Regions from separate parts of the Homo sapiens genome. Here region 1 is linked to region 2. The links come from fine-mapping of genetic effects on gene expression. A gene starts in region 2. The other region holds a variant in brackets. All regions are shown on one strand. Distances are between the middles of the regions. Region 1 has its middle 49 kb from the start of RNF212. Region 2 holds the start of RNF212 (ring finger protein 212).

Region 1 (2,909 bases), 50 kb after region 2:
GTGGCGTAAACCTGTGGTCCCAGCTTCTCAGGATGCTGAGGTGGGAGAATTGCCTGAACCTGGGAGGTCAAGGCTGCAGTGAGCAGTGATCATACCACTGCACCCCAGACTGGTTGACAGAGTGAGACCCTGTCTCAAGAAAAAAGAAAACGAGAGAGGAGAATGGACAAAGAAGTAATCACATAGTTGAAGTCTGTGGATGCAGCTTTCCTCAAAGTATTTTTATGAAGATGGTTAAACCTGAAACAAACTTCAGAATTATTTGGTCTGCAGATGTTTTCCTTTAAATAAATGTTTATTGTAATCATTTTTAAAAACCCAAAATAACAAGTGTTGTTAAGGACGCGGAGGAATTGGAAGCATGTGCACTGTTGGTGAGAATGTGAAATGGTGTGGCTGCTGTGGAAAACAGTGTGGCCTTTCCTCCAAAACTTAAAAACACAATTCCCAGATGATGCTGCATTTCAATTCAGTACTCAAAAGGATTGAAAGCAGGGTCTCTAAGAGATGCTTGTATACCCAAGATCGTAGCAGTATTATTCACAGTGTCTAAAACATGGGAGCCATCTAAGTATCCATCAGATGAATGGATAGGCACAATGTGTGTCTCCGTACAGTGGGCTATGATTCAGCCTTAAAATGGAAGGAAACTCTGGCACACGCTACCGCGTGGATGAACATTGAGGACGCTATGCTAAGTGCATAAGCCAGTCGCAGAAACACAAATGCTGTGTGAGTCCATGTGTGTGAAGTAGTCAAGATCGTAGAGACGGAAAGTAGGATGGTGGCTGCCAGCGGCTGTGGGATGGAGGGGTGGGAAGCTCTCGTTTAATGGGAGTTTCACAAAATTTCAGTTTCACAAAATGAAAACAGTTATAGAGATGGGTGGTGTGATGGTTGCACAGCATCAGGAATGTATTTAATACCAGTGAACTGTACACTGAAAATGGTTAAGGTAGGAAACTGTATCATCATAAATTTTCAAAAAACAAAAGAGACACCAGGGAGCTTGCTTACTAACTCTGCACACACACAAAAGAGGCCGTATGAAGACAGAGTGAGAAGGCTGCTGTCTGCAAGCCAGGACCCCCATCAGCCAGCATCTTGATGGACTTGCCAGTCTCCAGAACTGCGAGAAATAAACTTCTGTTGTGTAAGCCACCCAGTCTGTGGTATTTTATTACAGAAGCCCAAGCAGACTAATACACGTTTTAGTTCTCCTGTTGATACTTTATCTGTGTGCTTTATTATTTCAGTGATTCCTCTAGAGATTACAACATGCATCTTGAACTCACCACAGTGAACACTCACTGAGGTGAACACCGACTGAATTCCAGTGGAACGTAACCACATTGCTCCATATAGCTCCGCTTCCTCCCACCTGCTTTGTCATATGTATTTATGTACATATATATGGGATCTATGTGTTATAAATCTAACAATATGGTG[T/G]TGTCATTATTTCCTGAATTAAACTTATGTTTCTTAAAGACCTTAAGAGGAAAAAAATCTTTTATTCCATCATTCACAACATATTAACCATTTCCAGTTTTTTCTTGCAGGGAAGATTGGCTAGAAGTCAGTTCTCTTCATTTTTTTTTTCCATATTTGAATGTCTTTGTCTTCATTTTGAAGGATAATTTCACTGAAGATACATTTTCTTGGTTGACTTTTTAGCACTTGGTATATATGTCATTCCTCTGTCTTCTGGCTTCCATTATTATTAATATTGGTTTTTTTCATTTTTTTTTTTTTGAGACTGGGTCTCTGCCACCCAGGCTGGAGTGCAGTGTCTTGACCATGGCTCACTGCAGCCTGGACCTCCTGGGCTCAATCAATCCTCCCACCTCAGCCTCCTGAGTATCTGGGACTGTAGGCATGCACCACCACACCTGGCTAATTTTTCTTTTTTCTTTTTTTTTTTTTTTTTGAGACTGAGTCTCACTCTGTTGCCCAAGCTGGAGTGCAATGGTGTGATCTCACTGCAACCTCCACCTCTGGGTTCAAGTGATTCTCCTGCCTCAGCCTCCTGACGAGCTGGGATTACAGGTGCGCACCACCACACCTGGCTAGTTTTGTAGAGATGGGGTTTCACCATGTTGGCCAGGCTGGTCTCAAACTCCTGACCTCAGGTGATCTGCCCACCTCGGCCTCCCAAAGTGCTGGGATTACAGGCATGAGCCACCGTACCCAGCCATTTCCATTATTTCTGATGAGAAGTCAGCTGTTAATCGTATTGTCCTGTAGGTGATGAGTTGCTCTTCTCTTGCTGCTTTAAGTATTTTTCTTTTTGTCTTTCACTTACTAAAGCTTTATAGTAACTTTTGAAATTATGAAGTGTGAGTTTTCCAACTTTGTTCTTTTTTGAGATTGTTTTGCATATTTTGAGTTCCTTGCATTTCCATATGAATTTTAGGATCAACTTTCCCATTTCTGCTGACAAAGCAGGTTGAAATCTCGGTAGAGTTTTAATTCACCTTGTACATCAATGTAGGGGGTATTGCCATCTAATACTAACACTGCATCTTCCAATCCATGAATGTTGGACATAGCTTTACCTTTATTTAGGTCTTTGATTTCTTTCAACGGTATTTTGCAGTTTTCAGTGAAGAAATCTTGCACTTCATTGGTAAAATTTATTCCTAAGTATTTTGTTATTTTGGTGCTACTATAAATAGAATTGTTTTGTAACTTTTATTTTCAGGTTTTCATTGCTAGTATGTAGAAATACAACTGATTTTTATAGATGGATCTTGTATCCTGCAATCTACTGAGTTTATGAGCTCTGGGGATTTTTTTTGTGGATTCTCTAGGGTTTTCTGTATATGGCAAATCATGTCATCGGCAAGTGGAGGTTGTTTTACTTTTTCCTTTCCAACCACGATGCCTTTTATTTATCTTTTACTTTTATT
Region 2 (2,909 bases):
GCATATATGTGTATTATTTTTATGATTTCAAAGATACCAGAGATTGAGATTAACGTTATATCATTATAACATTGAGAGAATGCTTTTATAATGCAGCTTCTGAATTTGATAGATTAGGCACCTCATCCTATTCTTAAACTTATTTTTGAGACTGAGTCTCGCTCTGCTGCACAGGTGCCGTCAGGCTCACCACAGGCTCGATCTCCAGGGCCCAAGCAATCCTCCCACCTCAGCCTCCCGAGTAGCTGGGACCCCAGGGGCCCACCACCACACCCAGCTAATTTTTGTATTTTTTGTAGAGACGGGGTTTTGCCACGTTGCTGGTCTTGCTATTTTAAACTTGGTAGAGATCAGCACTGTCTAACAGAAATAAAAGTGGGCTACATACATAATTCTAATTTGCTGTTGTTGTTGTTGAGACGAAGTCTCACTCTGTTGCCCAGGCTGGAGTGCAGTGGTGTGATTTCGGCTCACTGCAACCTCCGCCTCGTTCAAGCGATTCTCCTGCCTCAGCCTCCGGAGTAGCTGGGATTACAGGCGTGAGCTACCGCACCCAGCCCATACGTAATTCTAAGTTTTCTAGTCTCCACATTGAAAAGGATTTTTTGAAAGGGTAAAATCAACGCTACTGATATATATTTAACCTAATATATCAAAAATATCATGTTAACATGTAATCAATATAAAATTACTAAGAAGGTTTTCATACGAGGCCCTGGAAACAGCTGTATTTTACTCACATCTTTCGGGGCGCAGGGGTCACTTGGCCCGTAGCTACCGGGAGCGCTCACCCTGCGCTCTCCCGGCACAAGCACTTGCCTGAGCCTCTCGATCCGAGCTTTGCAGCGTCCCAGCGGGTGGAAACTCTCAAAACCACGCAGAGGACAATTTTATAAAAAGTCACTTCCCCATGCTGGAACCTGGAAGCAGCAGAGGTCCTTCCCGAGCTACGCCTTCCGTTTCAGAGGGAAGCAGGCTCAGGCCTCCCGTGCTGAGGTCTCTGCGCCAGCGGCCACCTGGACACTAGTCCCAAAGCGTGCAGCGCGGCCTGGCCCCCACCCCCAACTGCCCCCCCCACCCCCACCGCCTCATCACACCCCACCCCCACCGCCTCACGCCCCCACACCCACCCCAACTCCCACATCCCCACTCCCGCTCCCACCCCAACTCCCACACCCACTTATCCCTCCCTCCCTCCTATCCCGCTCCCCGGGCCCCCAGGGCCCCCACGCCCACTCTCCCCTACTCCTCCCCTGCCTCGCCCAGCGCACTACCCTGGCCGCCCTGGCCTCCGGCCCAGCTCCCGGCCCTCAAGGTGGGCCTGGCCCGCATCCCCCGCCCTCGGCGCTCCCCCTCCCCCTCCCCCACTGCTGTCGCGCCGCGACGCCTCCTCAGCGCAGCCGCCATTCCCCGCGCCCGCCACCCAGGCCCGGCTTCCACAAAACACCTGAGGACCGCCAAGACAGGGGCGGGACGTTGGTGCTCGCGGTGCGTTCCTCCGCCTACTCCAGCCCAAACGACCTGGGAGACGAGTCACACGCGCCCTCCCAGGTGCTGCGGGAGAACCCGCGAGGTTGGCGGGAGGGCGCGAGCTCCAGTGCGCGGGCGCAGGGCTGCCGTCGACTTTGCGCAGGCGCAGAGCTGCCCGCCTTCGGGCCCTGCGCGGGGAGGCTGGTCCCAACCTTGCGTGGGCTTCGCGTGGGCCCGGCCTCGCCGCTGCGGTCGCCCGCCTGGCATGGCCAACTGGGTGTTCTGTAATCGCTGCTTCCAGCCGCCCCACAGGACGTCGTGCTTCAGCCTCACCAACTGCGGGCACGTGTACTGCGACGCCTGCCTCGGCAAAGGTCAGGGCTTCCCGAACGCAGGCTGGAGAGGGGAGGGGAGCGGCAAGGGGGTCAGGGAACTCCGGGGGATGGGGGACTTGGGTGGGAGGGCCATGGGGGCACGTGGGGGGCTGCGGAGGAGAGAGGGCGCGTGGAGAAGGGGGAGGGGGCAGGGGGAGGGGGATGCCAGGGGAGAGGCCGCGAGGAGCAGGGGAACTCTGAGGGGAGGGGGACCTGGGGTGGAGGGGCCGCGGGGGCGCGTGGGGGGCCGAGGGGGAGAAACGGCGCATGGAGCGGGGGGGGCATGGGGGGGTGAGAGGCCGCGGAGGTAGGGGTATTCGGAGGAGGGGCCACCGGGGAGTGGGGGCCGCGGGCGTGATGAGGGGCCCGTGGGGAGAGGGGGACACTGGAGAAGCGGTGGGGAGGGAGCGGGGGAGTGAGGGGCTGCGGGAGGGTGGGGAAAGAGGGGACGCCGGAGGTGGTGGGGGGCTGCAGGGAGGAAGGGGACGCCAGAGGAGGGGGGCAAGGTGGGGGATGTGGGGGGTCAAGGCTTGGGGGGGAAGGGGGATACCGAGGAGATGGGGGGAGGGGAGACGCCAGGGGAGGAGGGCGTGGGGGAGGGTCCGCAGGCAGGAAGGGGCCGTGGAGGGGAGGGGCCGCCGGGGGGAGCGGGATGCAAGATGAGGGGGACACAGGGGTCGGGCCACGAGTCCTGTCAGTCGGGGGCTCTGGCTTGCAGGCTGCGGGTCCGCCTGGAGGACCTGGGGGAGAAGCGGGCAGGCGGCAACCTTAACGCCAGTGGAGGACTCTGGCCCTATTCCATGGGCAGCGCGGGGCCCTGGTGTCAAGTGGACAGTCGCATTGTCAGGGAGGCGTTTTTCTTTCTGTGAAAATTTTGTGTTGAACTGATGTTTATGCAAGAACAAAAGCAAAAACACAGTGAGCTTTTACCAAGCGAACTTCCCCGTGAAAGCAGCCAGCTGGGTGCCGGTGGCTCACAGCCCTCCAGCCCCAGGGGACGCCAGCTGTGCTGACCTCCATCCTCGGAGTTGGCCTTAGACCCATGGAGCCTTAGTGAATGCAGCC

The links.
Region 1: its variant is fine-mapped to the expression of RNF212 in whole blood (TOPMed, PIP 0.98).

Annotation. Positions count from the first base shown.
Region 1 is chr4:1,062,713-1,065,621 of GRCh38, reverse strand. It overlaps a transcript of RNF212 not described here. Among named protein-coding and RNA genes, the nearest start is that of RNF212, 49 kb to the left of the region's middle. The variant T/G (reference allele first, on the strand shown) is at 1,450.
Region 2 is chr4:1,112,291-1,115,199 of GRCh38, reverse strand. RNF212 (ring finger protein 212) reads left to right here and starts at 1,636. Exons shown (of 10, transcript NM_001131034.4): 1 at 1,636-1,844. The coding sequence starts at 1,736. LOC124900647 (nascent polypeptide-associated complex subunit alpha, muscle-specific form-like) reads right to left here and starts at 1,561. Exons shown (of 3, transcript XM_047416477.1): 1 at 1,448-1,561. It overlaps LOC105374344 (a long non-coding RNA gene), which reads right to left and starts at 1,561. Exons shown (of 3, transcript NR_134676.1): 1 at 1,448-1,561. It also overlaps the pseudogene TMED11P.